Linked DNA regions of Homo sapiens. The protein of the gene in region 4 purifies or fractionates together with the protein of the main gene of each other region. This does not show direct contact. Each region holds a gene or a part of one and is shown on either strand. Other genes may lie near its edges.

What was found.
Region 1: the proteins of CYB5A (region 4) and AGPAT4 purify together in Homo sapiens (affinity purification with mass spectrometry; 2 studies listed by BioGRID and IntAct, with this or other methods). This does not show direct contact.
Region 2: the proteins of CYB5A (region 4) and RABGAP1L purify together in Homo sapiens (affinity purification with mass spectrometry; 2 studies listed by BioGRID and IntAct, with this or other methods). This does not show direct contact.
Region 3: the proteins of CYB5A (region 4) and ENDOD1 purify together in Homo sapiens (co-immunoprecipitation; 3 studies listed by BioGRID and IntAct, with this or other methods). This does not show direct contact.

Annotation. Positions count from the first base shown.
Region 1 is NC_000006.12:161,262,817-161,271,980, forward strand, and holds part of AGPAT4 (1-acyl-sn-glycerol-3-phosphate acyltransferase delta), read right to left. Parts: intron 1-9,164. UniProt on the Homo sapiens protein: Converts 1-acyl-sn-glycerol-3-phosphate (lysophosphatidic acid or LPA) into 1,2-diacyl-sn-glycerol-3-phosphate (phosphatidic acid or PA) by incorporating an acyl moiety at the sn-2 position of the glycerol backbone.
Region 2 is NC_000001.11:174,217,308-174,226,471, reverse strand, and holds part of RABGAP1L (rab GTPase-activating protein 1-like), read right to left. Parts: intron 7,348-9,164; 5' UTR 7,315-7,347; coding exon 7,177-7,314; intron 5,501-7,176; coding exon 5,308-5,500; intron 1-5,307. UniProt on the Homo sapiens protein: GTP-hydrolysis activating protein (GAP) for small GTPase RAB22A, converting active RAB22A-GTP to the inactive form RAB22A-GDP. Plays a role in endocytosis and intracellular protein transport.
Region 3 is NC_000011.10:95,126,487-95,133,950, reverse strand, and holds the end of ENDOD1 (endonuclease domain-containing 1 protein precursor), read right to left. Parts: intron 5,575-7,464; coding exon 4,372-5,574; 3' UTR 1,306-4,371; downstream 1-1,305. UniProt on the Homo sapiens protein: May act as a DNase and a RNase. Plays a role in the modulation of innate immune signaling through the cGAS-STING pathway by interacting with RNF26.
Region 4 is NC_000018.10:74,249,737-74,255,518, forward strand, and holds the end of CYB5A (cytochrome b5), read right to left. Parts: intron 3,930-5,782; coding exon 3,848-3,929; 3' UTR 1,110-3,847; downstream 1-1,109.

The DNA.
Region 1 (9,164 bases), on a different chromosome or scaffold from region 4:
AACCTCTAGGAGAACATGAGGATAACGTCATAAACAGTGCTGATGAAAGATGCCAGCGAGCCGTGAGAGCTGAGGTGGCCAGTCCTTGTCTGCAGGGAATGACCGAGGAAGAGAGGCCAGGAGGAGCAAAGCAAGCCCTGGGCTATTCCAGAGAAAGCGAGGGAAGGCCCACCAAGGCGAGTGACCAGAGGCAGAAGAGACAGACCCAAGCCACCCTCCATCCACCCATCAGACCATCAGAAGAGACAGAGAAGGAAAAAGAGCAAAGGCAGACATATTCTCGGCGGCGGTGGGCGGGGTGTTTCTCACACCTGCCTGCCCCACCCCACCCCACCACCAAGATTCCCAGCCACCTTGGATGCTTAAGGAAGGTGCATTTCCCCCGGTGAGGAAAGCTATATAGAAGCTGCTGAAGACCAGGCTCTCTTTAAAAAGACAAACAACAGGCTGGGCGCAGTAGTTCATGCCTGTAGTCCCAGCCTGGCCAACATGGTGAAACCCTGTCTCTACTAAAAATACAAAAAATTAGCTGGGTGTGGTGGCGGGCACCTGTAATCCCAGTTACTGGGGAGGCTCAGGCAGGAGAATTGCTTGAATCCGGGAGGCAGAAGTTGCAGTGAGCCAAGATCATGCCACTGCACTCTGGCCTGGACAACAGAGCGAGACTCTCTCGAAAAACAAAAACAAACAAGAAAAAGACAACAGTTCAGCCATTGGGGAAGACAGAAGGAATGGAAAGCAGGAGATAAGTCCTAATGTGGCAAAAATTGGAATGAATATAAATAATTAAAAGAATTAGGCACATTTAAAATATCTCTCTGGTCCTCTCCCCCGACCTCCTCTCAAACTTTAACCCTATTATTCCTCTAGAGATGGAGTCCAAATGAGGATTTCAGTGACCCCCACAACATCTTCATTACATCATCTGGTCTTAAGTAACTTCCAGATTTCCACATGATTTGGGGGGCTGTGATGGGAAGTTTCTGCACATTTTGAAACAATGGGAAGTCTTTTCACCCTAAAAGAAAATTCAGGAAAATTTCAGGAAAGGCAAGAATATGAAATGCAAGTCCATGTAATTCTGTTACAATATTTAGTAAAATCACAGTGTGCTCAGGCATTGCTAGCTCTGTGGCTTTGGGAGGGTTAGTTAACCTCTCTGTGCCTCAGTTTCAAATTAGATTAGAGAAAATAATTGGCAACCCACAGGGCTGGGGGCAAGCTGAAATGAGGTGTTATACAAAGCAGACAGCTTCTAGTAAGTGCTGCGTAACACATGTTGATTACAAAGTACATAAATGATCACCTTATAAGGTGTAATATGATAAGTGACCATTTGGGAAGAATATGATTGGAAAGTGACCTTCTTTCTCCCTATATTTACTATCTCAGGGCGTCAAAGACACCCTCCATACAACAAGTTACCAAACCCTCCTGGCTTTCAGACCTGTGCCTCTTCTGGGCCTCCCCTCCCAGAGCTGCAGGATGCTCAGCCTCTCTCTGCTTCCTGCCACGCCAGCCCACCTCATTCCTCTGTGGTCTAGGAAAACTCCAGCCTCCTGCCCTGTCCCACCTCACCCACTGGCCCACTCCTCTGGTCTCTGGCACTCCGTGAGAAGCGTGCACACTGGGACCAATACTCCCCACTTCCAGACCTAACGTGGGGGCTGTTCTTCTCTAGGAAGTATTTTAGGAAGCCCAGACTGGGCAGGGGTGGTGAGGTGGTCCCCCTGGCGTGCCCGCGCATCCCTGCCCTGCAAGTCTTATCCACTGCGTGGGAACCCCTCGCTGAGGCTTCCGTCTTGCCCTCTGGGCAGCAGGCTCCTCAAAGGCACTTGCAGGGTCGGCTCCCTCTTTGTATTCCTGCGGGCTGAATGCACGGGCTCCCTAAGAAACGCTGAAAGGGGATTCTGGAGTTGGGTGGGGAGTTGGAATAACTGACCCCACTTCTGTTGACCTTTGAGAGCCTGAAAGCGAGAAGGGAGAAGCGAGATGGGAAGATAAAAGGGAGGGACACAGCAGTTATGGAACCCCTAGGGTCACCCAGGACTAGTTATGGGACCCCTAGAGTCCCCCAGGGCTGGGGAGCTGAAGCCTAACTTCAGGCAGGGCAGGGTGCTGGTCCTGGGAAGGAAGTAAAGGTGGCCCCTCCTGTAAGTGAGAAGCACCAGGGACGGAAAGGGAAAGAAAGGCTTGAAATACCAGCAACTGTGGGGATGGATGCTAGGAGGCAAATTAATACTAGTGAGACCTGGTTGGTGGACTAGTACCCACTGCTGGACTGGGTGGTGGATTAGTACCCACTGCTGGACTGGGTGCTGGATTAGTACCCACCGCTGGACTGGGTGCTGATTAGTACCCACCGCTGGACTGGGTGCTGGATTAGTACCCACCGCTGGACTGGGTGCTGATTAGTACCCACCGCTGGACTGGGTGCTGGATTAGTACCCACCGCTGGACTGGGTGCTGATTAGTACCCACCGCTGGACTGGGTGCTGGATTAGTACCCACCGCTGGACTGGGTGCTGATTAGTACCCACCGCTGGACTGGGTGCTGACTAGTACCCACCGCTGGACTGGGTGCTGGATTAGTACCCACCGCTGGACTGGGTGCTGACTAGTACCCACCGCTGGACTGGGTGCTGGATTAGTACCCACCGCTGGACTGGGTGCTGATTAGTACCCACTGCTGGACTGGGTGCTGGATTAGTACCCACTGCTGGACTGCAGGGGCGCAGCACTCACTGTGAAGGTCAAGGAAACAGTAATGAAATCCCCAGGTGGGAGCAGGTTTGTGAGTGCCTCTCTCAATTTGTTCTTGAGATATGTTAATCTGTTCACTCCAGAGAGGTTTGGAAAAGGAGGCTCCCTTAGCTGGTGGGTGGGGAGGGGAACGAGGAGGGCCTGTCTGCACAGATCTGGGTGTGGAAGGGGTCCTATCAGGCCACCGAGCCTGGCCCATTTCCTCACTGCACCGGGCTGCCTTGGTGCCAGCATGACCCCCACGCAGACTTATCAGGGCAGAAAGCACTAAATATTTGAATACTTTACGGCCACGTGTCTACTTTTAAGTTGGTTTACTATTATTTTTCAATTCCCATGTAAAGTATTTCTTCATTTAAATTAATGAATTGCCACTTTGGTTAGGACCCTATTAGTCCTCAGAAATGGGTTTGCTTTGATCGGACCAACCGGATTCCTGAGTGTACCTGACAGAGCCGGGAATTCCCCCTCAAGCAGTGGTTCTCAGCTGTGGGCAAGTTTGTCCCTCTAGGGGATTTTTGGCTGTCACAAGTAGGAGTGGGGTGACTACTCCTGGCATGTAACAGTTAGAGGCCAGGAATGTGGCTGAGCATCCGATTCTGCACAGGTTGGCCTCTTCCACAATAAAGGATTAATGGGCCCAAAATCTCAACATCGAGATTGAGAAACACCTCGCCCTCAAGGAATGTCACCCTTGAGGCCCTGGCCAGGAGGCCAGCGATGAGGCAACCCTGATGACCTGACTTCTTGTGCCCATCTCTTCTCTAGGCCACAACACATATTCAGTGCTGGGTACTCTGCTCTATGCTACAAACGATGCGATCATACCTCCATGCCATGAATGAGCACCCAGTGCAGTTATGAAGAGAGGACTGTAATCATTGTCATGGCATGTAATTATGCATCTAGAAAGAGTGACTGTTTTATGAAGGGTGAATGGGGTGATGGGAGAGCGTCAGGAAAGCAGAGGCTGGAGGCAGATGCTAGAAATGGACTCACAGGCATAGAAATGGTTCCTATGCAGGCTACCCACACAAAAGGCCGAAGAATCTGCTCACCATCCGCCTTGCAACCTGCCCTTCCCCCAGCAGAAAAGAGACAAGAAAAGAAATGAGCCTGATGACTTACTCCTGGGACGCAGGACACAGTCTGAGATGATTGCATTGATTGTCTGCTGATGGCTGCAGTATCCTGGGAAGAAGATGTGCTTGCATAGACAGATAGTTCTTTAAAATTTCATCCGCCTCGGTTAACCTCTACCCACAGAAGACTGACAGCTCACGAGGAGCCCATGGAGATGGGCAAGAGACCAAATTTCACTCCAGGATCAATTCAAGTCTCCCATTCTCATTTCAGAGTTGATCTAAGATAAGCACTGGCAGGGTCTTTGCAGATAATAATCTGCCTTTAAACCCCGTGGTGGATTTGTGGAAAGTCCACTGAAGAACAGAAAGCCTCTGACTCCATCCACCCACCGCCTTGGGAACTCTGAGAGCAGCCACCACAGGTGTCCTTGAGAGCAGCTGCTCAGTCAAGTTCAATCCTGGGTTACACATTGGTTTTGAGAAGAGTTCATCTTTAATTTAATGTATGTACTGCATTGTCACTCAGATGGTTTTAATCACAAGGCCCTTTCCCTTCTCCCACCATCTCTGGCTAAACCATAATAAAAACAACACTCCCTGAAAACTATAGTAGCTTGTCTTATAAAGTACTGCTGTTAGTTTTTCTCCAAATTCTAAAATACTACCCTTTCTTGCAGTAATTTTGCTGTTCTTAACAACTGGGATGAAAGGCATGCAGAGGTCTACACGGTAGAGATTTGTTCATTATTTGAAAAATATTAGCTGGGGAACGGGCGCAGTGGCTCACATCTGTAATCCTAGCACTTTGGGAGGCCACACTGGGCAGATTGCTTGAAGTCAGGAGTTCGAGACCAGCCTGGCCAACATGGGGAAACCCTGTCTCTACTAAAAATACACACGCAAAAAAATTAGCCAGGTGTGGTGGCGCACCCCTATAGTCCCAGCTACTCAGGAGGCTGAGGCAGGAGAATCGCTTGAACCCAGGAGGCAGAGGTTGCAGTGAGCCAAGACTGCGCCATTGCACTCCAGCCTGGGCAACAAGAACAAAACTCTGTCTCAAAAAAAAAAAGAAAAGAAAAATATTAGCTGGGCATGTTAGTACACACCTGTAGTCCCAGCTACTTGGGAAGCTGAAGCGGGAGGATTGCTTGAGCCCAGGAATTCAAGGCCAGCTTGAGCAACAAAGTGAGACTGGCCTCTTAAAAGAAAGACCAGTCTCACTTTTAACATTTTAAACAAAACTAAAAAATAAATTTACCACATATCTGTTATGTGCCAGGCTCTGCACTGGGCATGGGAGACAGACTGTGGAATATGCCATGGCAAGGTGTGAAGGTACAGGGGAAAGCAGAGCCCAGATGATCTGGGTTAACGTCTCAGCTCTGCTCCTTCTTATGACCTAGCTGAGCTGCTTAATCTCCCTCATCTTTACTTTCTCTCTCTGTAAAATGGAGCACGATGAGAGTTTTCACACACTAGCTTTGTTATGAGGCTAAAATGAGTTAATAAATGTGAAGTCCATGTACTGGCACATAGGAGGCCCTCAGTGAAGGCAGGCTGTCATCATTCTTGCATATCCTGTAAGTCAGCCAGTCACCTCAGTGTCTCTAATGACCTCTGCAGGTTACCTGGCATAAACTAGACTGAGGCATCATCTCCTACAAGAATTTCTTTTCTCTTCTATAAAAAAACAAAACGGGATACATGTGCAGAATGTGCAGGTTTGTTACATAGGTATGCGTGTGCCATGATGGTTTGCTGCACCTACTGACCCATCCTCTAAGTTCCCTCCCCTCACCCCACTCTCCAACAGGCCCTGGTGTGTGTTGTTCCCCTCTCCTTACAGGAATTTTAGTGTCTGGCTTCAAACTAACATAAAATTCAAAATGCACCTCTCGTCTTGGAGGATCCCACACAGAAATGACCATGAAGTAGTTATGATGTTTAACCTAAACAGAGCAGAGATGCCCGTGCCAACCAGAGTTATTAGGAACAGCTTCATGCTGATATCATCTGAGTTTAAAATAACCAAGAAAAAGAAGAACTTGCTAAATGTTTTCTCCCAAGGTCAGCCAAGCAGAGGAGTGTGGTTTTCCAGAGGAACTTTGTCATGTTGTCCATATAATTTCCAGGCTGACGGTGGAACTTAAGTGGGGGAAAATAATTCTACTAAGAAGAGTTTCATGACATCAGAAAACACAGAGAAAGTGCTGCAACGAGGTCTCAACACTGTTCGTGTTGGGTCTCTAGAGCCACCACTAGTTTCTGGATGCACTGCTGTTACTATTAAGAAAGCTGTAGGGGGTTGAAACCCACTTGTTTTTATCAGAACAAGACAGAGACTTGCAGTGTATTATGGGAAATCAGCTCCAAAGGACATGAGGATATTCAGTGAACTAATGGGTATGTAATTGGACGCAGGTAGTTTTTCTTTTTTAAAATGCTATACTTTGAGTCGATGTGGGGGGAGCTGTTGTCACCTGGAAATCTATGAGTAATTCACTATGAATGGGAACCTTGAGAGATTCTCTCTCTCAGATTGTTCTTTCAGAAAGAGAATACACAAGCCTTCTCTTCCTCTGTGTCTCCTGCGTTAGAAATTCCACTCTTCCCATTTAGTTAATTAACAAATGTTTACCATCCTTATGCTCAACCAGCATGGAAGGTACAAAAAATATATAAAATGGACAACAGTCAACAGCTAACCACTTGATCCCTCCCTGCCCAGCACAGTTTATGCTGTGTGTGAACAATTTATAAAATTGTTCAATGAAAGAAGTATCCTGTTTCATTGGCCAATAAATGCTTCTATTAGAAGTGATACCGCCAGGGCAGGCGCGGTGGCTCACGCCTGCAGTCCCAGCTGCTGGGGGAGGGGGGCTGAGGCAGGAGGATGCTTGAGCTTAGGAGTTAGAGGTTGCAGTGAGCCATGATGGCGCCACTGCCCTCCAGCCTGGGTGACAGAGCGAGACCCTGCCCACCCCCCAAAAAAAGTCATACCCCCATGGTTTAGAGGCTGTCTCCACATTGTCTTCCTGATAGTTCTTAAGCTTCTTTAAGGAAAAACCAGTTTCCCGTTTATTGCTATATCTATAATATACAGTGCCTGAGACATGATACTCAACACTATTTGTTGAATAAATGAAGGGATTGGGGGTGGATAGAGGACAGATGGATGTATCATGTATGTGTGAATGGATGAAGGAATGGTGACTGAAAGGTAGGACTTAGGATCAAAGGAAGAAGTAGAGCAAATTAGATCGGAGAAACAAGATAACGACAAACAATGAAACCAATGGGAAATCTTTGTGGAGCAAGAGTGTGCCAAGGAAAAGAAGACAGGTAGATGGATTGTTCCATGACAATGTTGAAACAAATTATACTCCTTTTAAGATATTTCCTCTTATTCAGTCATTAGAAGAAAATGGGTATCTGCCAGTCATGGGGTTTCCCTTGTAAACCCATTTGAAAACTATAACTATTTAAACTGTATCTTGTTTTGCTCACAGTTGCATCTGTGGGACCTGACACCTATTAAACACGTAATAAACAGCTGTTGAAGAAAGAGTTCATGCTTTAAGCTTCCTCTTTCCTACAGCCTGGCAGCCACTGCAGACCTTCCCAAGCCCATGCATGAAGCCAGGTTTCAGAGTTCCAGCGCTTCCTTTCCAAACTGATTCTCACACAAAGAATAATGAATTTGAGTTGCCCAAGCTCTAGGAAATGTTACATGATTATTATGATTATATTTCAAAATAGGAGTGATGAAAGGCGTTTCACCAAAGATTTAGAGGTCAAACACCATTCAGAAATGTGAATGTGGGCCAGGCACGGTGGCTCACGCCTGTAATCCCAGCATTCTGGGAGGCCAAGGCAGGTGCATCACCTGAGGTCAGGAGTTCGAGACCAGCCTGGCCAATACAGTGAAATTCTATCTCTACTAAAAATACAAAAAAATAAAAAATAAATTAGCTGGGCGTGGTGCCACATGCTTGTGATCCCAGCTACTCGGGAGGCTGAGGCAGGAGAATCGCTTGAATCCAGGAGGGGGAGGTTGTGGTGAGCCGAGATCACGCCATTGCACTCCAGCCTGGGCGACAGAGCAAGACTTCATCTCAAAAAAAAAATAAATGTGAATGCGGCTTTGTCCCATAACCATCAGACCTCCTTTCCAGAATAAAGGAGACTGCACAAAACGTGTGACATTTACCAAACCCTCATTTGAGCATCCAATAATTTAAAACAATGGCAATGGCAGGAATTATGAAGATGACATTCCGGGTAAGTTCCTGGTTGCGTCTTCCCCAGTTTCATACCTGTTTAAAGTCTAGTGTAAGTCTGGCCTTTCGTTGTTAAGCTGAAGCTAAAAAAGTATTGGATTAGGAAGGATTCTGCCTTCTGTTCAGTCTTCTAACAGTCCTTCTTTTTCTGATTAAGAAAAACTTCTGTCCCCAATTTACATCTACTTATGCTTTCAACCAGCACAGAGTATACCTGCTCTACTTCTATACTAAAGACTGACTTCTCCCTTCTTGGAGTTAAGAACCCTGAACCATGATCCATTTCTTACCATCCACCTTTGCTATCTAAGACACCCTCTCCTTCTTCCCTTGAACCGTCTGCCTCCTCTCCTATAAAGCTTCAGCAGCAGGATGAAGACTCTCTAGTATTCTTCTCATACTAATTGCGTCTCCTTGACTGGCTGTTGCCTCCCCCTTCCTTCCAGCTGGGTGCTCTGCTCTTCTTTTCGCCACCCGTTTGGTGGATTTTAAGCTTGAGAGCACAGACTACAACTGCTGCCTTCTTCACCAACTTCACAGCAGAGCCTTGCAGACAGTAAAATCCCAATAAAATGACGGCTGACTCACCCTCTGGGTGTCACCTCTGTCAGCCTCTTCCATGGGACCCTACGTTTACTTTATACTCACAGCTCCACTTACCTTCCCTAGGCCAAAGCTGCTAACTGCTTTAACCTCTACTCAGCATCTGAATATCAGACAGTGTTTTGTTTGTTTATTGGGTTTGGGTTTTTTGTTGTTTTTGTTTTGGCTGTGCTTCTGAGGAAGTCTTGCTCTTTTTCCTTTCAGTTCTATTCCATTAGGCTTTTTGCTGTGAAATTTTGAATCTGGAAACTCAAGAGAACCGACATCGCAGACTTTGATTTACATGCTGTCAATCTGCTTTGGAAGGTCATGTGGCAAATCTGCCCTTGAGGACCATTTTCAGACAGGAAAAACAGTAATTTCAGCCTGGCTGCTTTTCAGAATTCTTTGCAAACATCAGATGCTCACAATCCAACCGTTTCTCTGTGTACTA
Region 2 (9,164 bases), on a different chromosome or scaffold from region 4:
CCCACAGATTATACCTGAAAACTTTCGACAGAATATAAAAAGCAACGACCGGAGGACTCTTTCTTTCTTTTTTTATTGAGATTGGGTTTCGCTATGTTGCGCAGGCTGGTCTTGAACTCCTGAGCTCAAGTGATCCGCCCACTTTGGCTTCCCAAAGCGCTGGGATTACAGGCGTGAGCCACCACATCCAGCCTCCTTTTAAAAAGTAAATAGGAACAGCCAGAGTGGAGAGGAAAGTGAAAATCTGAACCTCTATTACAGTGGTGAGTTTTCCATTTTTCTCATCATCACCTCCCAGTTTTGACCTAAGGGTGGTCCGAGTTGCAGAATAGCAGTGAGCAACAAAACAAAGAAATCCAATCTTTCCAGCCAAATAACAGAAAAAGAAGTCCCTGCAAACTAGAGAGTATCTGAGAAATCATGACTTGTTTCTGTTTTGTTTTCTCTCCCAGTTCTACCACTAGCCCCGACCACAGAACTACCTGAAATGCTGGTAGTCGCGGTGGTACTGTAAGCATCTACAATCTGGAGGAAAAGAAATGTGTCTCAAAGGCTAAAATACCAAAGCAAAGAGGCCCCTATAACCCAAAAATGGAAAAGAAAAACTCTATTATTTTTCCCTCTCTTTTCTCTCACCACTTTGTCATAAAGTGCTCCAGACATATGATTCTGCAAAACAGCACAAAGCAGCAAAAACTCTAAGAAAGAAACCTGTCTTTCTAACACAGGGGTAGAAGGAAAATGGCCCAAGGAAGCCAGAGAGTGTGGGGAAATCTCAGAGAGGAGAGAGCTGAAGAAGATAATCCCCTAACTCTGCGTGTAAACTAGCAAACTGTGTATGCATGTGGAACAGACTGAAGAAGCACAGCAAAGGTTTTGAGAATTGAAAATACTTTGGAACCAGAAAGCAAGACAGATCTTGCAGTTTGGACACAACCAGGTGGAATGTCTGCTTTAAAAAAAAAAAAAAAAAAAAAGTCAACATTCTTCAGAGGATTTTAACAAGAAATAGTCTCAAAACATAAGATTCGAAAACTCTGGGAACAAGCCAATTACTCAACAAACATAAAAGGGTGATCTATTCTCAAGTGAAAAAATAATCCACAGACCAATCCCAAGATGTCCCAGTTGCTCCATAAATAATCCATAAAATAAACGTGAAAACACCTGTAATGAATAAAAATATCAAAACTATCCACAGAGAAACAAAAAAACTTTAAAAAACAATGTAAATTTAAAAACAGAAAAATACAATATCTAAAATTAAAAATTCATCAGACGATCTCAATAGCAGAATGGAGATTAACAAAGTAAAAAGTCAGTGAGCTTGAACACAGGGAAAACAATGAAAAGAGCCTAAGGAATTGTGAGAACGGTATGGAAATGTCTACCATTTTTGTCTACTGAGTCCCAGAAAAGAAAGAGATTAGTGTAGAAACAAAACAATTACCAAGAAATAATGGGTGAAAACTCCCAAATTTGGTTAAAGATATAAATTTACAGATTCAAGAATCTCAGTGATCCAAAAAAAAAAGATAAACTCAAAGAAAACCACACACAGATAATCAAACTGCTGAAAACAATGAAATAAAAGTACTGAAAGCAAAGAAAAATAACATATTACAAATAGGAGAACAATGATTCAAATCCCTTCAGATTTGTTATCAGAAACAATGGAGACAAGAAGACACTGGAAAAGCATTTTTAAAGTGCTCAAGGAAATATACGTATGGCTGTTGAAAGCAAAATTATTAGACTGGTAGGTTTTTCAATGTATGTATATGTAATACATGTCAATATCAGGAATGAGAGGATATTAATACACATCCTGCAGACATTAAAAGGATAATAAGAGAATATTACTCTATAACAGAGAAACAACTCTATCCCCATACTTAGGTGAAATTAACCAATTACTTGAAAGATGAAAACACCAAAGTACACTCAAGAAGAAATAGATAACCTAAATGGTCTTTTGCACTCAGATTTAAAATTTTTTTTTGAGATGGAGTCTCACTCTGCTGCCTAGGCTGGAGTGCAGTGGTGTAATCTTGGCTCACTGCAACCTCCGCCTCCTGGGTTCAAGCCATTCTCCTGCCCAGATTCTCAGCTGGGATTACAGGCATGAACCACCATGCCCGGCTAATTTTTGTATTTTAGTAGACACCGGGTGTCACCATGTTGGCCAGGCTGGTCTTGAACTCCTGACCTCAAGTAATCCACCCACCTTGGCCTCCCAAAGTGCTGGGATTACAGGTGTGAGCCACCATGCCCAGGCCAGACTTAAATTTTTCTATAATGATATGCAACTATCTTTTCCTTTTGTGATTTGGCTTTTCCTACCTTGACAATCACAAAAATATGCTCCATTGTTTTCTTCTTACAGGCTTATTTCTCACTTTAAATATCTGATTCACTAAAAATAATTTTTATGTACAACTAAGGAACCTAATTTTATTTTATTGCACTCAAAGATGCAACTGTCCCAACACTATTTACTGCATAGTTACCATTTCCCCCAGTGGTATGTGAAGCGAATTCTGTCATATACTGAAATCCTTTATATACATAGGTTTGTTTCTGGTACCCTGTTCTAGTGATTCACTTCTATAACAAGCCAATATCACATTGGTTTAATCACTGTAACTCTGTAGTCTATCTTAATACATAATATTCTTTTTAAAAATTTTCTTAGCTACCTGTGTACCTCTACTTGTCCAGATACATTTCAGAATGTTTATAAAAATAACTGAAAATTTGAAATTCCCACCCAAGTTACAGACTAATTTGGAGATAAGTTACATCTTTTCAAGGTTGACTCCTATCAATCAACATGGCATCTCTCCCCATTCATTCAGGTGTTCATTTCCTTCAATAACATTTTATAATTTTATTAAAATTTTACATAAATTTTTGTTTCTTCCTTGTTACCTATTATTTTTGTTGGTATTATGAATGGCAATTTTATTTTCTACTGTTGGTGCTAACCTTCCTAAAAGTCGTTAAATCTTTTTTTTTTTTTTTTTTTTGAGATGGAGTCTCACTCTGTTGCCCAGGTTGGAGTGCAGTGGCATGATCTCAGTTCATTGCAACCTCCACCTCCTGGGTTCAAGTGACTTTTCTGTCTCAGCCTCCTGAGCAGCTGGAATTTCAAGTGTTCACCACCCTGCCCAGCTAATTTTTTTTTTTTTTTTTTTTTTTTTTTTTAGACAGAGTCTCACTGTCACGCAGGCTGGAGTGCAATGGTGCAGTCTTGGCTCACTGCAACCTCTGCCTCCCAGGTTCAAGCGATTCTCTCGCCTCAGCCTCCTGAGTAGCTGGGACTACAGGCATGTGCTGCCACACCCAGTTAATTTTTGTATTTTTAGTAGAGACGGGGTTTCACTATATTAGCCAGGCTGGTCTGGAACTCCTGATCTCGTGACCTGCCCATCTTGGCCTCCCAAAGTGGTGGGATTACAGGCTTGAGCCACCCCGCCCAGCCATTTTTGTATTTTTAATAGAGACGGGGTTTTGCCATGTTGGCCAGGCTGGTCTCAAACTCCTGACTTCAAGTGATCTGCCCGCCTCACCCTCCCAAATTGCTGGGATTACAGGCATGAGCCACCATGCCTGGCAAAAAGTCTTTAAATCTAATAGCTTATCCATTCACTTTCTTAAATACTTTACCAATCATGAGAATTTTTTCACTTTTTTTCTAATCACACTTCATTTCTTTTTCCTGTCATCTTGCATTGGCTGGATTCTTTAGTACAACGTCAAAGAGCTATGGTGATAGCTATCATGCCCTAACTGCTCCTGTTTCAATATATCTTGATGGTAACGCATTTTAAATTTCAGCATAAAACATAAGACTTTGATAGATATTTGATTAAGCAAGTTTCCTTCTAAGTTTTCCAAGAACTTTACATGTGCATATACATGTAAAATTTTAAATTTTATCCAGTGCTTGTTCTTTATCTACTGATACTTTTTCACTCTTCACCACTTTATGTGGTAAACCACACTGAAAGATTTTTCTAATGCTTAATCATCCTTGCCATGGAAGGCACTGTGATTACATTCCCTACATAAATGCATCACAGCCCTATTGTGTAACAGTTTGGCTATACCTATACTTACCCTGTACCAAGGTTCATTTGGTTCAGAAATGAATCACGAGTTTCCTAAGCCAATTAGGATAATCCCATCCCCTCTGTCAGAGTGACTTATTTACAGGTTTGAATGTAACCCAGGCCTACAGCTATCAGTTCATGTCATTTCCCTCACTACTAGAAAATGGTTTCACTGGTCCAATCAGAGTAAAACTCAGAACTTTTATTTAATCCGTAAAACAGGCCAGGGATGGGTGCAATGGCTTGCACTGGTAAACCCGACACTTTGGGAGGCTGAGGTGGGCAGATCACCTGAAGCCAGGAATTCAAGACCGGCCTGGTCAACATGGCAAAACCCCATCACTACAAAAAAAAAAAAAAAATTAGCTAGGCATGGTGGTACACACCCAGCTACTCAGAAGGCTGAACAGCATCACTGCACTTCAGCCTGGATGACAGAATGAGATCGTGTCACCAAAGAAATTTTAAAAATCAGTAAAAGAATGAAGACTTTCTCTTTGCCACCAGGCACAAACAGGTCACCTTCCCTTACCTACCAGTTTCTGCTGGTAGCTACTTTGTAACCAGCTAAGGAGAAAGGTAACATAGACAAGATCAGAGCTGAGTAGTTACCAAAAAAACACCATCAGAGCCTAGATCAAATTATACCTGTGGTGTTTAAGCCAGCTGAAGTTGGAGCTGGTTTTGGTTTTATTTATTTTTGCACCCAAAAGCATCTTGACTTATAAGCTAGTATTCAAAGTACAAATCCTAATTATTCATAGATGTATTTATTATTTAATACACTGTTGGAATTGATATGTTTTACTTAGAGTTTTTACTAAATATAACTTTAAATAAGTGTAGTGAAACTGAGCAAAAAGGCACATCACATGAAAGACTATCTCCATTACACTATTCTGTGACACCCAAGTATTTACTCATTTGTTCAGTAAGTATCTGTTGAGGACCTACCATGCATGAAGTACTAGGGGTAAAATGAGGACCCAGACATAGTCTTTGTTCCCAAAGAACATTAAGACCTGATTTTTATAGGCAGAGATATAGGCAGAAACATAACACCGAAGTGGAAACTCTCAACAAGAACTGAAAGCTTGAGAAGAGCTAACAATTTTTTCTGATTTTCATCTTAAAATTTTCACTATTACTTTATCCCATTTCTTTAATAGTTTCTAAGAATTCAATACAGTACCTGTGTTAGACGGATCCAAAATTAACTGAAGAGATGGCTTATTTGTTTGGCTGGCTGGAATATCTCCAAACGAATGGTCTGAAATCTCACTGGAACTTTGACAATCAACAAGAAGACTGCTTGGCCTTTTCTCGGAATCTCTCAAAATCTCTTCCATGGCTTTTTCCAATTGTTCATCACCATTAGAAACTATCTACAGACACAGCAAGACAATTCTGTTTCAATTCTACCATAGTTCTGAAGCTAAATTTTATGAAAGTATTTCATTTCTAGAAGAAATTAAAACAATCTAAATATTTAAATATAGTTACTAAAATACTAAGAAGTTGTTTCACATATATAATACATTAAAATCCTGGTTATAAAACTAAATTAGAGGAAGATTATTAGTTTCACAAAAGGATTCTTTATAAAACACTTAAGACAGTTTCCAACTACATTTTATATAAGATCCTATTTACAGAGATGTATTTATCTTTTTTTCCCCTTTCTTTTTAAAGACAGAGTCTCACTCTGTCACCCAGGCTGGAATGCAGCGGTGCAATCTCAGCTTATTGCAAACTTCGCCTCCTGGGTTCAAGCGATTCTCATGCCTCAGCCTCTCAAGTAGATGGGACTACAGGCGTGCACGACCACACCCAGCTAATTTTTGTATTTTTTGTAGAGACGGGATTTCCCCACATTGGCCAGGCTGGTCTTGAGCTCCTTACCTCAAGCAATCTGCCCACCTTGGCCTCCCAAAGTGCTGGGAGTACAGGCTATGAGCCACCACGCCTGGCCCTTCTTTTTCTTTTTCTTTTTTAGGAACACACCCTAAAAATCAGATAACCTTAAATTTACATGTCTAAAGGAAAAAATAGGTAAATTTAAATCGGGTCTATTATGAATATCATTTAAAAGGTTATATTTCTTGTTAGCACAGCATAACCATATTTCTGATTTCTTTACAAATTGTTGGCTAGCTCCCAAGATGAATATTGCTAATTTCCTTACACTTAAGTTGACTCATAGTTTTCTCAAAGGCAGGTGAAACACAAAGCCTAAGCAAATAAGTGATGTCTTAAACACAATAATGCTAAAATACAGGTATCTAAAAATAAAGCCACTGATTATTTAAATAAAATTATAAAACAATATATTCTCAACATAAACATTTAGTAATCTCATTTTCAGAATATATTTTATTAGACTGATATATTAATACACTTTTGATGCCATAGTTAATACTAAATAAAAGTCATAAGTAATATATAGCACTTTTAACTACTTTTCCTATTCCTGTTTCTAGAAGACAGTTATACCATTTTCAAGCCTATATAACTGAGTTTACTTGCTTCCTTTTCTTTGACTTAGAAAGTGCAACACAGAAGTGAAAAAGGGACCATATCTAAATAAAAACTCAAATGCTAAAAATATAAGATATGCTTTAAAAACATTTAGACAAGTCGACTGTTAAATCACACAACGGAACGTTACCAGCTGATTTAAAACATAAAAATCATAAAGAAAAAAGTCTCTCAAGTGAAAGCAAAACATTTAATTAACTTCTAAAACCCAGCAGTAAGAGAAACAAAAACATCCAGATAAAGTAATGTAAAATTTAACCATTATGTCTAATTCACCAAAAAATCCTTTCTCTTCTTTTTCTTCTTTTATTCTTCCCCCTAAAATTCCAAATCAAAAGGTAAACAACCAAAAGCAAGAACTTTTTAAAATACACAAACCAAATAATTAGGGTCTGGATAAATCAAACATTGATTTTATTTTGAAAGTCAGCACTTGAGAAAAACCTTTGCATTTTACACATCTCCTAAGTTTCAAATAGTTTTTAATTAAAAATTATACCATATGTAGAAAAGAAAAAAATACCTTCAGTTGAGGTTTTTCTTCATGTTTTGTAGAATTATCATCTGCATACTGAGGAACCAAAACAAATTCTTCACTGTTCATTGTAGCCACAGAATCAGATGATCCACTAACCTTCTGTAATGAAGCTCTGACCTCCATTTCAGTTCTGCAAACTTCTCTTCCCACAACCACCTGGAAAAACAAAAGGGATTAAAAAAAAAAACCTACTGATTAAAAACATGAACTAATTAAAAACATGAACTAATAAAGCTTTAAAAATGGTTTATGTGAAGAAGAATCCTGCTGGCTAGATAATTATCTCAAAGTTAGGGAGGCTACCTTCTTGGACTGAGCCACTTAATGGAAATGTACTCTCTCTTCATCCTAAGTTTCCAGACTAATAGAGCCATATTGTTACCTAAAAATTTACACAAACCAGTCCATATCTCAACCAGATTTATCACTGTTTACCTGACACACTCACTCTCATTTCTCTTAGAAATACTGTTTTCTTTTTAATAGAGGAAATAATTAAATGATACTAGAAATACCTACAAATGCACACACAGACACAAAACCATATTCACTGACACTGCTATATTAATTAAATCTAAATGCTTCAAAAAAAAACTTATCTCCTCAAGACCGAATATTGTACCTGCAAATATTTTTTCTGAGTAACTAAAGTTGACTAATACAGAATTCAACATCCTAAGACATATAGCTTCTCTTTCCTGACACATTATCACTTATTAACACCAAAAAGAAAAAGAAAAAAGCTTCTATATTGCCTTCACGTAGCAAATAATGTTTCAGTAATCAAACACAGTGTAATTCTGTTTTCTGGATAGATCTCTACAGCATAGAAACAACACTCACTATCATATCCAGAAGTTCATGTACTCACACAACTAAGTTTAACTGCAGACATACACTATATAACAGACACAACTCAGCCCTGAGGTTACCTAAGTGAATAAGGAAAACAAGTAGCCTGCACTTCTGGGGCTTACATACTAGTAAGAAAACAAATAAAAAGGGAGCAAATGGTGATTCCAAGTCACTCTAAAGGCTATGCAAACAATAAACACGTTAATGTGACAAACAGTAGCTATGGGAAGTATACGGACAAATTAAGGTGGTAGGAAAAAGCTCTCTGAGAGGAAAATATCTGAGCCTAAACCTGAAAGACAAAAAAGAACCCTACTATTACACAATCTGCTCAGTGACCAAATGAGTAATGTGATAGAGGGGCAGGACAAGCAGGCTAGGGCTAAAGAACACGGGACCTTGTAAGCCATAGTAAGTCTACTGATCCATGCCTAAAATCCCCCCAGAAATGTTATTTTTCTTTCTAATTAGGTTACCTTTTCATTATAGCCTATAAGTATAGCTGCAATATTCCATTTTGCCATTAGGTGACACTAACACCATTACTCTTGGCAATAAAAAGAATGAGTCTAGCTTCAAGTTACATGTGTATCTTTTAAAAAGTAATTACTTTCCAACTTTATAAAAAATCAAAAATTTCAAGAATATCAAAATAAAGAATAACCATACTCCTGGACCAGTGTAATTAGCTAGCCATCATTTATTTCTGTTATGCATGTTAACACCCTTCCTTTTTAAAACCCAAGCGACATTCATCTGTCCTCTGAAGGTTTTTTTCTCACTTTGTATATTTTGTTTCTAAAAATGCAGAATGTGTTACAAGCCAGGTCTTTACTCTTCCAGACTGCACGATGAATCCTTAACTGCCAACACACCACATATTCCAGATGTCTTTCTGTGGTCAATCCTTCAAGTCCTTCTCAGGTTGCTGCTCCTCTACCTGATTTCTAAATGTTAGAAATTCCCTGAGTTCAGATCCTGACCTTTTCCCTTGTCACACACTCTAAGTAATGTCTGTCATTGTCATGGACGAAAATACCATCTGCAGGCTAACAGTCTTCCAAATTTCTATCCCAACTCAAATACCTTCTCTAAATTCCTGCCCTGAAATTCACCTC
Region 3 (7,464 bases), on a different chromosome or scaffold from region 4:
ATGCTGACAATGTGTTTGGATTTTGGAGGCTTGATTATGAGATAAAACTGAATAGTGCTGGACACATGTTGAGTTTCAGTTTTCTGACCCTTCTCTTTTGAGACTCCAGGTCCAACCCTCATCTGTACCTTCAGATTCATGGACACCACTGATGAGGTTCTGGCTTGCTTCATTTTCATTCATGACTTTGACTCCCAGACCACACTTTGATCCTGGTTCTTCCAGCGTTGATCTAGAAACATCCTAACCTCTAAGGCACCATCAAACCAATTTTGTCCAAGAAGTGTAAATATCATTGCCCACAATAGATCTAGCAACAATTAACATTTGCTGAGCACTTACCATGTGCCAAGCATGGTAAGTGATGAATGCTTTATGTTCATTAACTCATTTAATGCTCATAGCAACCCTTTGAGATAGGTACTCATAATTGTATAGATGAGAAAGCCGAGGTGAGTAACTTGCTGAAGATCACACAATAAGTGGGGAAGCCAGGATTTGTGCCTACATCATTTTGACTCTAGAGCGTGGGCTCTTAATCATTAGGAAGTACTGGCCTCCAGAAGTCATCTTACATCCACCTCCTCACAATGGATAATTGAGGATGACAAGTGGTTATAAGCACTTTCTTTGTTGAAATTTAAGCTTAAAAATTGATTTGGAGTTAGACATCAATCCATGACCTGGGGGAAAATACCTACAAAGAGAGACAATGGGAAGACTGAGAACCCATTAATGAAAAGCAAGCAGTCCACACTATATGGCTTGTAGTGTAACATTTGGACAAACACGTATTCTGTGGTGAGCTTAGGCAAGATGCTGCCCACACTGGGAAGGCAGCCAAGAATTACTGCCACCTCCACCCAAGAGGATCACCCTACTAAAGGCCACAGAGAGGACCAGCCCCCGTCAGAGACTGCTTGTAATTTCTCTCACTGTGGGAGCTTCCTAATGAATAAACAAACTAATAAAAGTATTTCTATAATTTTCTATGTGATTCAGATTCAGTGAAGCAGTAAGTCTTTGGTGCTTAATTATGCAAGATATCAAAAACACTTATTGTCCCAAATACTTTGCAGAGCAATAACATTAAAAAATAGTTCTAAGTCCTGTTTCACTGATCCAGACCTCTCTGTTTTTTCATGTATGATGCAAACTTTTAAAGAAATGAACAAAAGCCAGTCACTGGAAGCTGCTTGAATTAATGCGGATCAAGAAGAAAATGGCAACAATTCACAGTCCCCAAGCCTCATTTCAACTATTAGGATTCTCCCCTTTTAGATATTTTACAGAACTGCTAACGAGTTGTCAGTAATTACTTTATTGAGCATCTGCAAGGTGCACATCATTGTACATAGCTTGAAAATGTCAAATTGAGTTTTGTCACACCCTCTGTAAAGGCTTCCCTAATTTCCATGGTTTCGTGGTTTTTCTTCCTCTGTTCCAAGGAACATGTTATTAGTACCTTTACTGCAGCACTTACTTGTCCTTCATGTGTTACGATTGTACCATGTGTTCTCTCCACTAGGTTTTGAACTCCTCAAAGATGAAATCCATGCATTGTTCATCTCTGCAACCTTGATGTCCAAATACGTGTTTGACAGATGAACGAATGACTGAATAAATGAAGGATGGTTCACTTTGGTTCCTCCTCCCAACTACCTAGTCTGCATTTAGATCGAAGTGCTGATGCTGAGTGAGAAGACAACATTCAAAAGGCACAATGGAAAAGAGAAGTGTCCAAAGGCATAGCTGATCCACAGACTAGAAAATCAGCTCCATAATGAGGAAGAGGCTAATCCCAAGGCCTCAGAACATAACAGAGCCACAGCAAGATCTTTAAGCCAGAGTTGGGGTTCATAAACCCCAACCTCTACCTCAAAGCCCAGCGTAGCTCATTAGGAACAGGCCAGCAGTCCAGCCACCTGCTGTGGCTTCACGTCCAATGCAGATGGTTCTAGAGACCCACAGGCACAGCCACACTAGTAGCTCAGGGCAGTGGGTCTCAGCCACCTATCCTTACTGATACTTTTTGCTTTATTGTCCCTTTTTAGGTTTCAAAACTGGCCACCCAAGAATAAATAGACACTAAACAATTGGATGTGAAAAAGAAAGACATTCCCCAATGGTTCTCAAGAAGCCGTTTGGATGCTGTGCTCCTTACATGGTGCTAAGGGGCTCAAGCTGCCGTGGATGCCCTTTTCGGACCTTTCAGTATGCAAATATGTGCTAGGAGGGAATTAAGTTTCCATGGGATGCAGTAAGCATAATGTTGTACATGGATGGCTAATTGTTTTCATCACACATGCCAAATCCAACTGCTTTGTCAGGGCCTGGAGTCTGTTTGATGAATGAGGAAATCTTGCCATGGTCCAGAGAGGCAACTGAATAATAGCACGAACTTCCCATGTCTGACATCTCAGGTGTGATGGGACATGTGCAAACAACGTTGGCTCCTAATCTGCTCTCAGCTAGCCATGAAACTAAGGGCTAGCCTGTTGCCTCCCAGGGCCTTGGGTTCCTTATCAAATAATAGTTTGGCTGGACTGTCCCTCTGGTCACTTCTAAAATTCCTTTTCTTTATCCAGCAGGATTCTTGACCAATCAGTACCAAGTCAAACCCTCACCCTTCCATTTACCTTCACACTGCTGAAATAAAGGGACATCCAAACTTTATGCTCCCTAAGACAAGAGTTGGTAAAATACTGCTTTAAGTTTCTTAGCTAAGCCTGGTGCACATCTCCCTAGCATGGACCCATGCGGTGCTCATACTCCCTAACCTTGCATCACAAATTGATCAGGATGGCAGCTTGCTGGCTGCTGTTCTACTCTGGGTGTGCCTCCGCTATTTTTCTGCAAAATGTAACTCTTGCTACGCTCATGTTTCTCATCCATCGACCCCATGCAAATGGTTGACATATTGTTCTCTCCTTGTTGGGACCCCGAATTTTTGCATATAACTTTCTGATTGATCCTGGGCGGTAGCCCCAAGATCAGTATTTCATACTTGGCTGTTTCTACCTCTCAGCAATTCTTTAAAACATTCAGAAAAATCCAGGTGATTCCATCCCAATTGTGGGAAGCAAAGTTTGGTCCCTCTTGTTACCATTTTTTAGTGCAAGATTTAAAATGACAAGTGCTTGATCAAAAAAATTTTGAGAATGAGCTCTCACATTTAATTTGTATTAATGGGGGAGTTATGTTTGTAGCCTCAAACACACTGTAAAAATAATTTCCTAAGATATAATTATTCTTAAATATTTTATATATTTTTTTCAGAGATGGCCACAATAACTTTTATCTTTATTTTGTGGCTCTTTTCTATATAGTTGTATCAAAACAACCATTTAGGGACATAAGTCAGAGTATTTTTACTGTGCTGGGTACTTATTTCATGCATTAGAAAAATCTACTATGTTGCAGAATATGAATTTTCATGTTAGCTTAACATATAGATCTTTCAGTTCAACCTTGTCAGGCAGGGATACACGTCAAGTTAATCCAAGCTGGACAAAAGATGTCCTTGGATCTGCAGCACCTACTAAGAGCAGGGCTGTCCACCTTCTCTTCTCTTCTTTCCACCGGAGAGGACTGTATTATACCATTCAAGGGGCCCAAAAAAAAAAGAAAAGAAAACTTTGCCCTTCAATTCAAACTCTGTTATGCCACATTTGGCATAAAATGCTTACCATTACCTAAAAATGATTTTTTAAAAAATGCTTATCATTACCTAAAAGAAAAATGTAGCAAAATTCAACTTTGGAGGAAAATGAAAACTGTACATATCCTTGAGAACCACGGAAAGCTAAGAGATATAGAAAATTGTACATTCCCACAAAGTTATTTCAACAAAGAGGCATTATCTGCATTCCACCAAGGTCAGTCGAGTTGAGGAGAAAGAGAAGCAAATGCCAAGAAATTGGCTGCAGATTTTTTTTTTAATCTGTTTTGCCTTAAATCACAAAGAGCAATGGGAAGAACAAGCTCCCTTTCTCCTTTTCTCAGACACCTTTGGTCTAAAGTTGTTCTTTTTCTAGTTCTTCCCTCCCCTGTAATTTTTAATTATCAGAAATAAATACCAGTGCATTTCAGGTGGTCGTCTGTGTTAGAGTGCATAACTGAAGTTATTAGTGGCTTGGGAGTTTGCACATATAACTGGAGGTAAACAGCAGATTACTACACCTAATCTCACCCTGAGCATTTCTCCTCTGTCAAGTCTAAATTCTGCCATCTTCTTTTGCAAAAACAAGCAGACATCCCCACCAAAGGCCAAAATATAATGATAACTGACAGTGAACAGAAACCCATTGTAAAGACAAACTATTCCAGCTTTCAAATTCACTGTGACTGGATACTATTAGTTTTTTGAGTTTATAACTCCCCAGAATTGTCAAAAGTAACCTTGTAGCCAATCCGCTTGCAGACACTAAAAACCACCTGAAATAGGCCACCCAGGGTACCAAAAGCAGTGTCAAAGAGCAGTGAGACAGTGCCACCAAGGCCCAGTGCAATGTCCTTGCAAACAATTGGAATAGCGCCCATGGTGTACACAGGGAAAGTGGCCACATCCACAAGGACACGGACAGGGATGCTCAGAACTCGGCAAATGGCCTTCAGCAGACAACAAAGGATCCGGAGGAGAGCCCTGATGACTTTGGCCACGACCTTGAGCACCTTCCAGGGAATGCTCACCAACTCTTCCCCAATGGCCATGAAGTATGAGATGGTGGCTGAGCCCAGGCGGTAAAGGCAACTTTCTATGCCATTAATCACCTGCTTGGTAACACACCACAGGAAATAGACAATGTTCTTCAGGATTGCTACCACAAGGTAATAAATTAATTGAAAAAGCTTGATGAATGGGGTAGCAATGAAGCCCATGAGTTTTCCCAAAAAGCTACTACTTCCCTCAGATGCCTCTGGAGGCAACAGAGTAGACCTCTTGCTCCTGGTGCTAGAAAGGGGACTAGAACTCTTTTGAGATTGTACCATTCGTTCTTCATCCTGGATTTGGTTAACCACTTCCAGGATTTTTTTCATTTTCTCTGTGTCTTGCTCAGTTTCACCACAGTTGTTCTGAAACAGCTGAGGGTTAAATGGAAGCAGTTTCTGAAGATCTTTTACCATCACATCTTCTATGATGTCACTGTCCCGGGTGTGCTTGACAAAGCCCATGGCCCAGCCTCCTCCAGGGACAGCACAACAGGCTGCCAGCCAAACAAACTCAGGGACTGCCACTTTGTCTTTAACTCTGTAGTCTGAGGGCACTGTGCCTGTGAGGATATATAGGTCTTCCCCACTGCCACACTGTGGGGTCAAAGCCCGGTCCATTAGGCTGTGGAGATTCACATACCACCGTTCCTGGAAGGACTGAGTCATTGGGGCTGAATTTGTGAGAGTAAATGTGGCCACCTGGACATCACTGCTAAGGGAGAATGGGTAAAGCTGTCCTCTTTGGTAATCAGAATCAAGGTAATCTGTATTCAAGGCTTGCTTGCTTCCCAGGCTGTTCACAGAGGTGATGGCCTCTGCCTCATTAATCGCCTCCTCAAGGTTGCTGTTGGGGTCATCGATCTGCAAGAAGAAAACAAGTGGTGAGATGCATCCCTGCTTACAGCACAGAGGCAGCACTAGAATCATCCTGCCCAGACTCTGGAGAAGTCCCCACTGGTCTATTACTTCAAACGCTTGAGTTTGGAAGGACTTGGTTCTCTGGCACATGGACACTTCATTCTGATATACCAAAATCCTGGTGTTTCAAAGCATCTTTCAGATAGGCTGTTTCCTAGTCTATTACCTGTGTTTATCCCACCCTGCTCTACAGTAACACCCCTTCACTCACACTCACACCCACCATCGTGATGTTCTTTTTAAAATCTGTTGTAGTCTGGGGCCAGGTGCGGTGGCTCACGCCTATAATCCTAGCACTTTGGGAGGCTGAGGCGGGTGGATCATCTGAGGTCAGGAGTTCAAGACCAGCCTGGCCAACATGCTGAAATCCTATCTCTACTAAAAATACAAAAATTAGCTAGATGTGGTGATGGGTGCCTGTAATCCCAGCTACATGGGAGGCTGAGGCAGGAGAATCACTTGAACCGGGGAGGCAGAGGTTGCAGTGAGCTGAGATTGCACCATTTTACTCCAGCCGGGGCAACAGAGCAAGACTCTGTCTCAAAAAAAAAAAAATCTGTTGTAGTTTCATGAACTTCATAATTCTTTTTTGGAATACTTTTGCATGAGCTTCAAAGTAATTCTAAAAAAGAAAACAAGGGGAGAGTAGATCTCAACAGGCCCATAAAGCCAGAACTGCAACTCAGTTAATCAGCCACCAATGTTGGTTGCAATTTAATGCACATGTTCCTAATGAATGTTTACACATTTTCGGATTTATGAAAAATAACCAACTCTAATCAGCGCATTTAAATTACATGGGGGAAAATGTACAGTCTGGTGTCAGTTATTAGGTATTTATCAGGCAAAACTAAAATTCAAATTAGACCAGTTGCTGTTTGAACTTAATCTCCCCAATATTTGCTATGACTAACAATTCATTTTGTGTCTTGGTCAATCTAGACATGTGCTATATATCAATTGCCATCAATATATACATCCTTTCTTGGTTCTGCTTTCTTTATAAAAAAATTCAATATTATTTATGATTATTTTCATCTTATCTGAAAGGACAAAAGGAAAGTGCTTAGGATTAATTTAGGATTATGTCATTATCCCCCAAACTAACTTGTAAATTCTTGACACCAGAAACCATGTATATTCCCCCAGAACCCAGCCCAAGGCCTGACACATACTAGAATCTCAAGGCATTCTTGTTGATCTTTATGCCCTGGGGCGGCAGTATTTATAATAGCAGCAAGTGGAACCATCCCACATTTTAAAAAACAGGGAAAGGTTTCGTAAATAATGTTATGTTATATCTATCAAAGAAATAACTCATTAAAAACCATTATGGCCAGGCATGGTGGTTCATGCCTGTAATCCCAGCACTTTGAGAGGCCGAGGCAGGTGGATCACCTAAACTCAGGCATTTGAGACCAGCCTGGGCAACATGGCGAAACCCCATTTCTATAAAAAAAAAATTCAAAAAATTAGCTGGGCATGGTGGTACACACCTGTGGTCCCAGCTACTCAGGAGGCTAAGGTGGCAGAATCGCTTGAGCCTGGGAAGTAGAGGATGCAGTGAGCAGAGACTGTGCAACTGCACTCCGACCTGAGTAACACAGTGACACCCCCATCTCAAAAACAAAATCATTAAAAAGCACTTGGAATTATAAAGGGGTTCGTAATGATAAGAAAATATATGCTATAATGTTGAAAAGAAAGGGCAGGATATAAAATTAAATAATCACTTTTTTAAAAGCCTTCGAGTATGTAAGGAAAACTTTTGAAATAAGCATATGACATGTCAACATGGTTGTTTGATTCCTGGGGATGCAAGTCATATTTTTT
Region 4 (5,782 bases):
TCTCCCTACCATGTGAGTACGCCGAATCTGCTGGCACCTTAATCTTGGACTTCCAGCCTCTAGAACTGTGAGAAGCAAATGTTTGCTTTTTAAGCCACCCAGTCCAAGGTATTTTGTTGGAGTGGCCTGAGCTAAGATCGCCTCTTTCCTGAAAAGTGGGAGAAGAGGAATTGAGTTGAAAGAGAGTAAAGGAAGAAGCGCAGGCATAAACATCAGGTCACTTTGAGAAAAGAATGTGCTGTGGGTTGACCTACGTCCCCCAAAAACATATGTTGAAGTCCTAACCCCAGCACCTCAGTGTGACTATTTGGAAACAGGATCATGAAGATGTAATTAGTTAAGATGAAGTCATGCTGGGGTAGGTAATCCAATGTGTCCTTATGACAGAGACACAAAGGGAGAAAAATGTCAGTGACAATAGAGGCAGAGCCCTGGGTGACGCAGCCGGAAGCCAAGGACTGCGAGGTGAGGACTACAAGGTGGGGACCGCCAGGTGAGGACCACATCGAGGACCACCAGGCGAGGACTATGAGGTGAGGACTGTGAAGTGAGGACCACCAGGTGAGGACTGTCAGGTGAGGACCGCCAGGTGAGGACTGTCAGGTGAGGACCGCCAGGTGAGGACTGCTGGCCACCAGTGGCAGCTGGAAGAGGTGAGGAAGGATTCCACCCAGAGTGTCGGAGGGCGAGTGGCCCAGCTGAAACCTTCATTTACAACGTCTGGCCTCTAAATTATGAGAACACATTTCTGTCGTTCTAAGCCACCCAGTTGTGGTGTACTTGGTTACAGCAGCCTAGGGAAACTCCCACAATCTAGGTAGAAGCTGAGGATCCGGACGCCATCTGTGTCTGCACACCTCTCAGAAAGGCTACGCTGCAAAGGAGAATCTGCTTCCAGAACTTCCACTTGCCTTCATCTAGACACCTCCAGAGGAAGGGAGATGCCTGTTCCAACCAGAGCCCTAATCATCAACTCAAACCCAGGAGGTGAGCAACTGACACACGTGCACCCAATACAGTCCCTGTGTTACAGGAAAGGGGTCCCAATCCAGACCCCAGGAGAGGGTTCTTGGACCTCGCACATGAAAGAATTCAGGGCAAGTCCGCAGTGCAAAGTGAAAACAACTTTATTAAGAAAGTCAAGGAATAGGCCCGGCACAGTGGCTCATGCCTGTAATTCCAGCACTTTGCGAGCCTGAGGCGGGTGGATTGCCTGAGGTCAGGAGTTCAAGACCAGCCTGGCTAACATGGTGAAATCCCGTCTCTACTAAAAATACAAAAAAATTAGCTAGGCATGGTGGCATACGCCTGTAGTCCCAGCTACTCAGGAGGCTGGGGCAGGAGAATCACTTGAACCTGGGAGTCGGAGGTTGCAGTGAGCCAAGATCATACCACTGCACTCCAGCCTGGGCGACAGAGTGAGACTCTGTCTCAAAAACAAAAAAAAAAAAAAAAGAAAGTTTACTTTGCCAAGGTTGAGGACATGCCCGTGACAAAGCATCAGGAGGTCCTAATGACATGTACCCAAGGTGGTCAGGGCACAGCTTGGTTTTATGCATTTTAGGGAGACATGAGACATTGATCAATATATGTAAGAAGTACATTGGTTCTGTTTGGAAAGGCGGGACACCTTGAAGCAAAGGCAGGAAGACTCAAAGCAGGAGGGAGCTTCCAGGTCACAGAGAGGTGAGACACAAAGGGTTGCATTCTTCTGAGTTTCTGATTAGCCTTTCCAAAGGAAGCAATCAGATATGCCTCTCTCTCAGTGAGCAGAGGCTTGACTGAGTAGAATGGGAGGCAGGTTGGCCCTAAGCAGTTTCCAGCTTGAGTTTTCCTTAGTGATTCTGGGGGCCCAAGATGTTTTCCTTTCACAAGCAGCAGATGAAAAGAAAGGGCAGCCTCTGAAGTCTCTCACCTCTCTGAAGGGAAAGCAATAGAGAAAAAAGTGTCAAATATCTTTCCTTGAGAGTCTGGCTGCACAAACTGTAAATGTTAAAATTAGGAAGTAAACTCTCCTTTACTCCACATGTTGTTCCCAAAACACATGAAGAAACATTGCCAGCCACAGCAGCAAATTGCTGAGTCACTGATAAAAATGTCAAAGTTCAACTGTTATGTTTCTTAACGATATACAGATGCTATTACTCAACATCTTAAAAATGATTTACAAGTTAACCCTTTAATGTCATCTAAGGTACGACTGACCCACTTCGATTCACTTCATAGTTGATTTAGGAGCAATGTTTTAAAAACTACTAAAATGTGAAGCTTTATAGCTAAAAATCACAACCAAAAATATTGAAATATTTACATAGGTCCCTTAACAAGTGTTGTAATTTATTTTGAAATAGAAACTACTTGTCAACTTTCAGTGACTAAAGAAGGCAAAGGCGGTGCATCCTATTTGATTATAAAGGTTGTACTCTGTAAGAACAACACAATTCCTTTCCACTGCACGCGGTCACTTCTGAAGAACCTCGTGGTTTGTCAGCTCATGCCAGTGCAAATGCAGTCACAGCCAATGACACATGTACTGGGTTCTAACAAATTCAGCTTTCAAGTTTCCACATTTAAAAGAATAACACATAAGGCAGAGAATAATAAATGGGAAGTAAGATGACTGAATCAGCCCCTTAGAGCCCCCAGGAGGAGACAGAGCCACACCAGAACTCTTCAGAGCTTGACACTAGCCGCTAAATTTCTTCAAAGATCAGATTCCAATGTCCCACAATCTCCTTACAAATTAGAAAACCAGCCTTTCCTTAGAAGAGTTTACAAACAATTCTACTCTCTGAATGAGGAATTCTTAAAACTTTAGAACCTATGAAGCTGTGAGTGCCTTTGCAATGATACGTGTAAGCTGAGAGAATGGACAGTTGCGATGCCCTCTCATGGTTCATGTGTTTTTAAGTTGCTGATGTTTTTCAATCAGTGAAGATAAGAAGTCTCTCTTATAGGCCCTGTAGGCTACTTTCTTTTTTTTTTGAGACAGAGTTTCACTCTTGTTGCCCAGCTGGAGTTCAACGGCGCGATCTCAGCTCACTACAACCTCTGCCTCCTGGGTTCAAGCAATTCTCCTGCCTCAGCCTCCCAAGTAGCCGGGATTACAGGCATGCGCCACTACGCCCTGCTAATTTTGTATTTTTAGTAGAGACAGGGTTTCACCATGTTGGTCAGGCTGGTCTTGAACTCCTGACCTCAAGTGATCCACCCACCTCAGCCTCCCAAAGTGCTGGGCTTACAGGTGTGAGCCACGATGCCCAGCCGCTACTTTCTTTTTAAGATCTATTTCAAGTAGGACAATTATTAGAAATCCTTAAACTATAATTTCTGGCCTTTCTTAATTTCCTTGAAAAAAAGAAACTATATCGGAAGCATACAATACATGGTTACTCAATGAGATGTGACGATGTGAAAGGAGACACTCAAACCTATTTCCCGCACCTCCAGTCATATGGCCTCTGTGGGTCTGGATGAGTAACACATTGAAGGAATCCTCTAAATAACCAGATTCTAAACATTAAAGACAATTATACACCAAACAGGCAAACACGGTGCATACTTTAAAAGCCAAATATATTTTTAAAAGATCATGCTTATAATAAGTAAATTACACATTAAGGAAACATCAAAATAAAGTAGATGAATAAAAAGGCACACTCGAAAAATTTGAGCGCAGAAAGGACAGTTCTTTTTGTTTTGTTTCTAATGTCGGAAGAAAAAGAAAGAGATATATTAAAATCATTGTTTTCAAGTGAAGGTTTCTGTCAGTTGAAGTAGTTAGCAATGGCTTCTTTTCTCCCGTGTCCAAAGCAGGCTCTTCCTGCGCTGACTTCTGAGGAGGTGTTCAGTCCTCTGCCATGTATAGGCGATACATCAAGGCGACGGCCACTGCAGAGATGGCAGGGATCACCCAGTTGGTCCACCAACTAGAAAGACACAAAAAGCAATGATGCTGACATGATGTGCACTGTGGTGGACTCAAAATCTTTGCTCCTTCTAACAGAAAATTACCAGGGCATGTTTTTCTTAACTCTGTAATGAATTTTGCTGAAAAGGCAACGTGGATTTGCTAAAAGTGACATGAGTGTAACACATGCCCTGCTATACTAGGAATCACTCTGCCCTGCTGGCTTTATGAGAAAACTCATGCCCCACTTGGCTGGGCTCAGTGGCTCACGCCTGTAATCCCAGCACTTTGGGAGGCCAAGGCAGACGGATCACTTGAGGTCAGAAGTTTGAGACCAGCCTGGCCAACATAGTAAAAACCTTCTACCAAAAAATACAAAAAGTAGCTGGGCGTGGTGGCAGTAGCTAATTGTAATCCCAGCTACTTGGGAGGCTGGGGCAGGAGAATCGCTTGAACCTGGGAGGCAGAGGTTGCAGTGAGCCGAGATCACGCCACTGCACTCCAGCCTGTGTGATAGAGCGAGACTGTCTCAAAAACAAACTAACAAAAATAAACAAACCAAAAAATGAATGCCCCACCAGCTGTAAAGTTGAAGAGTATGGGCCCTGTGATGATTAACACTGCCATTAACACCACAGCTTTAAGCTTAGGTTTGGAAAATCTAATCTTTACTACCTGTGCTGAAGTGGATTTAAAGGGTTAAGAAACAGAATGGCCAGACTACTTGGTGTGTGGTCCACAGGTCTAAATTCACCAAAAAAAAAAAAAAAAAAGCCTAAATTTACAGTCCTGATGCATAGAATTTCGATCTATAAATTACAGATTACAAATCAAATCAGGGACAAAGGAGGGATGAGCTATAATTTCTATTTGAATCTTTTTTTTTTTTTTGATACAGAGTCTTGCTCTGTTGCTCAGGCTGGAGTGCAGTGGCACGATCTTGGCTCACTGCAAGCTCCGCCTCCTGGGTTCACACCATTCTCCTGCCTCAGCCTCCCGAGTAGCTGGAACTACAGGCGCCCGCCACCATGCCCGGCTAATTTTTTTGTATTTTTAGTAGAGACAGGGTTTCACTGTGTTAGCCAGGATGGTCTCGATCTCCTGACCTCGTGATCCACCTGCCTCGGCCTCCCAAAGTGCTGGGATTACAGGCGTGAGCCACCGCGCCTGGCCTCTATTTGAATCTTTAAATTAGATTTGAATCTTTAGATTTTGATCTTTGACTTAATTTCTTAGAAAAATGGAAATTAATGTGTAGGCTTTAGAAATAGACTTGGTATACATATGTGTTTCATAGGGACTACAAGTATAATCCTTTCATAAGGATTACAAGTGAAACTTTCATAAGAATTACAAGTGTAACTTTTGTCTTAGTGGGGTTTGGTGGGGTTTTTCAATTTCACTTTAGAAAGAAACTGGCTTGTTAATGAAGAGTAAGGTGAAATACTGCCTGCAGGCAGGGAATATTCCAGAACACCAACGGACTGAGGCAGTTAAATTTGACAGGATGAAATACAAATGTGTGGTTTTGAGCTTGGGTCCAAAAAAGTGGCTACTACTGAAGTCAATATGGTAGAGCTGCCAAAGATGTTAATGTGCACTTGGACTATCATAAACAAATCTGGTGCCTAGAACAATTGAGTCGTGCTACACATAGATTACCAGCTTCAACTTTAAAGCTAATAAAAATGACAAAGGAAAACTGACCCATGTTTAGGGAAATGTAATCACTAGAGTTTAAGAAACAGACATGGATTGAAAGGAAGGAAATGTCTGCTTGGATGAGCCAGGGAGGTGCTGTGGGACTGGCCGCCTAAGATGCTGCCCTGGGGGAAAAGGAAATGCAATTGTTCTGTTTGTTCCTTGGGGTGG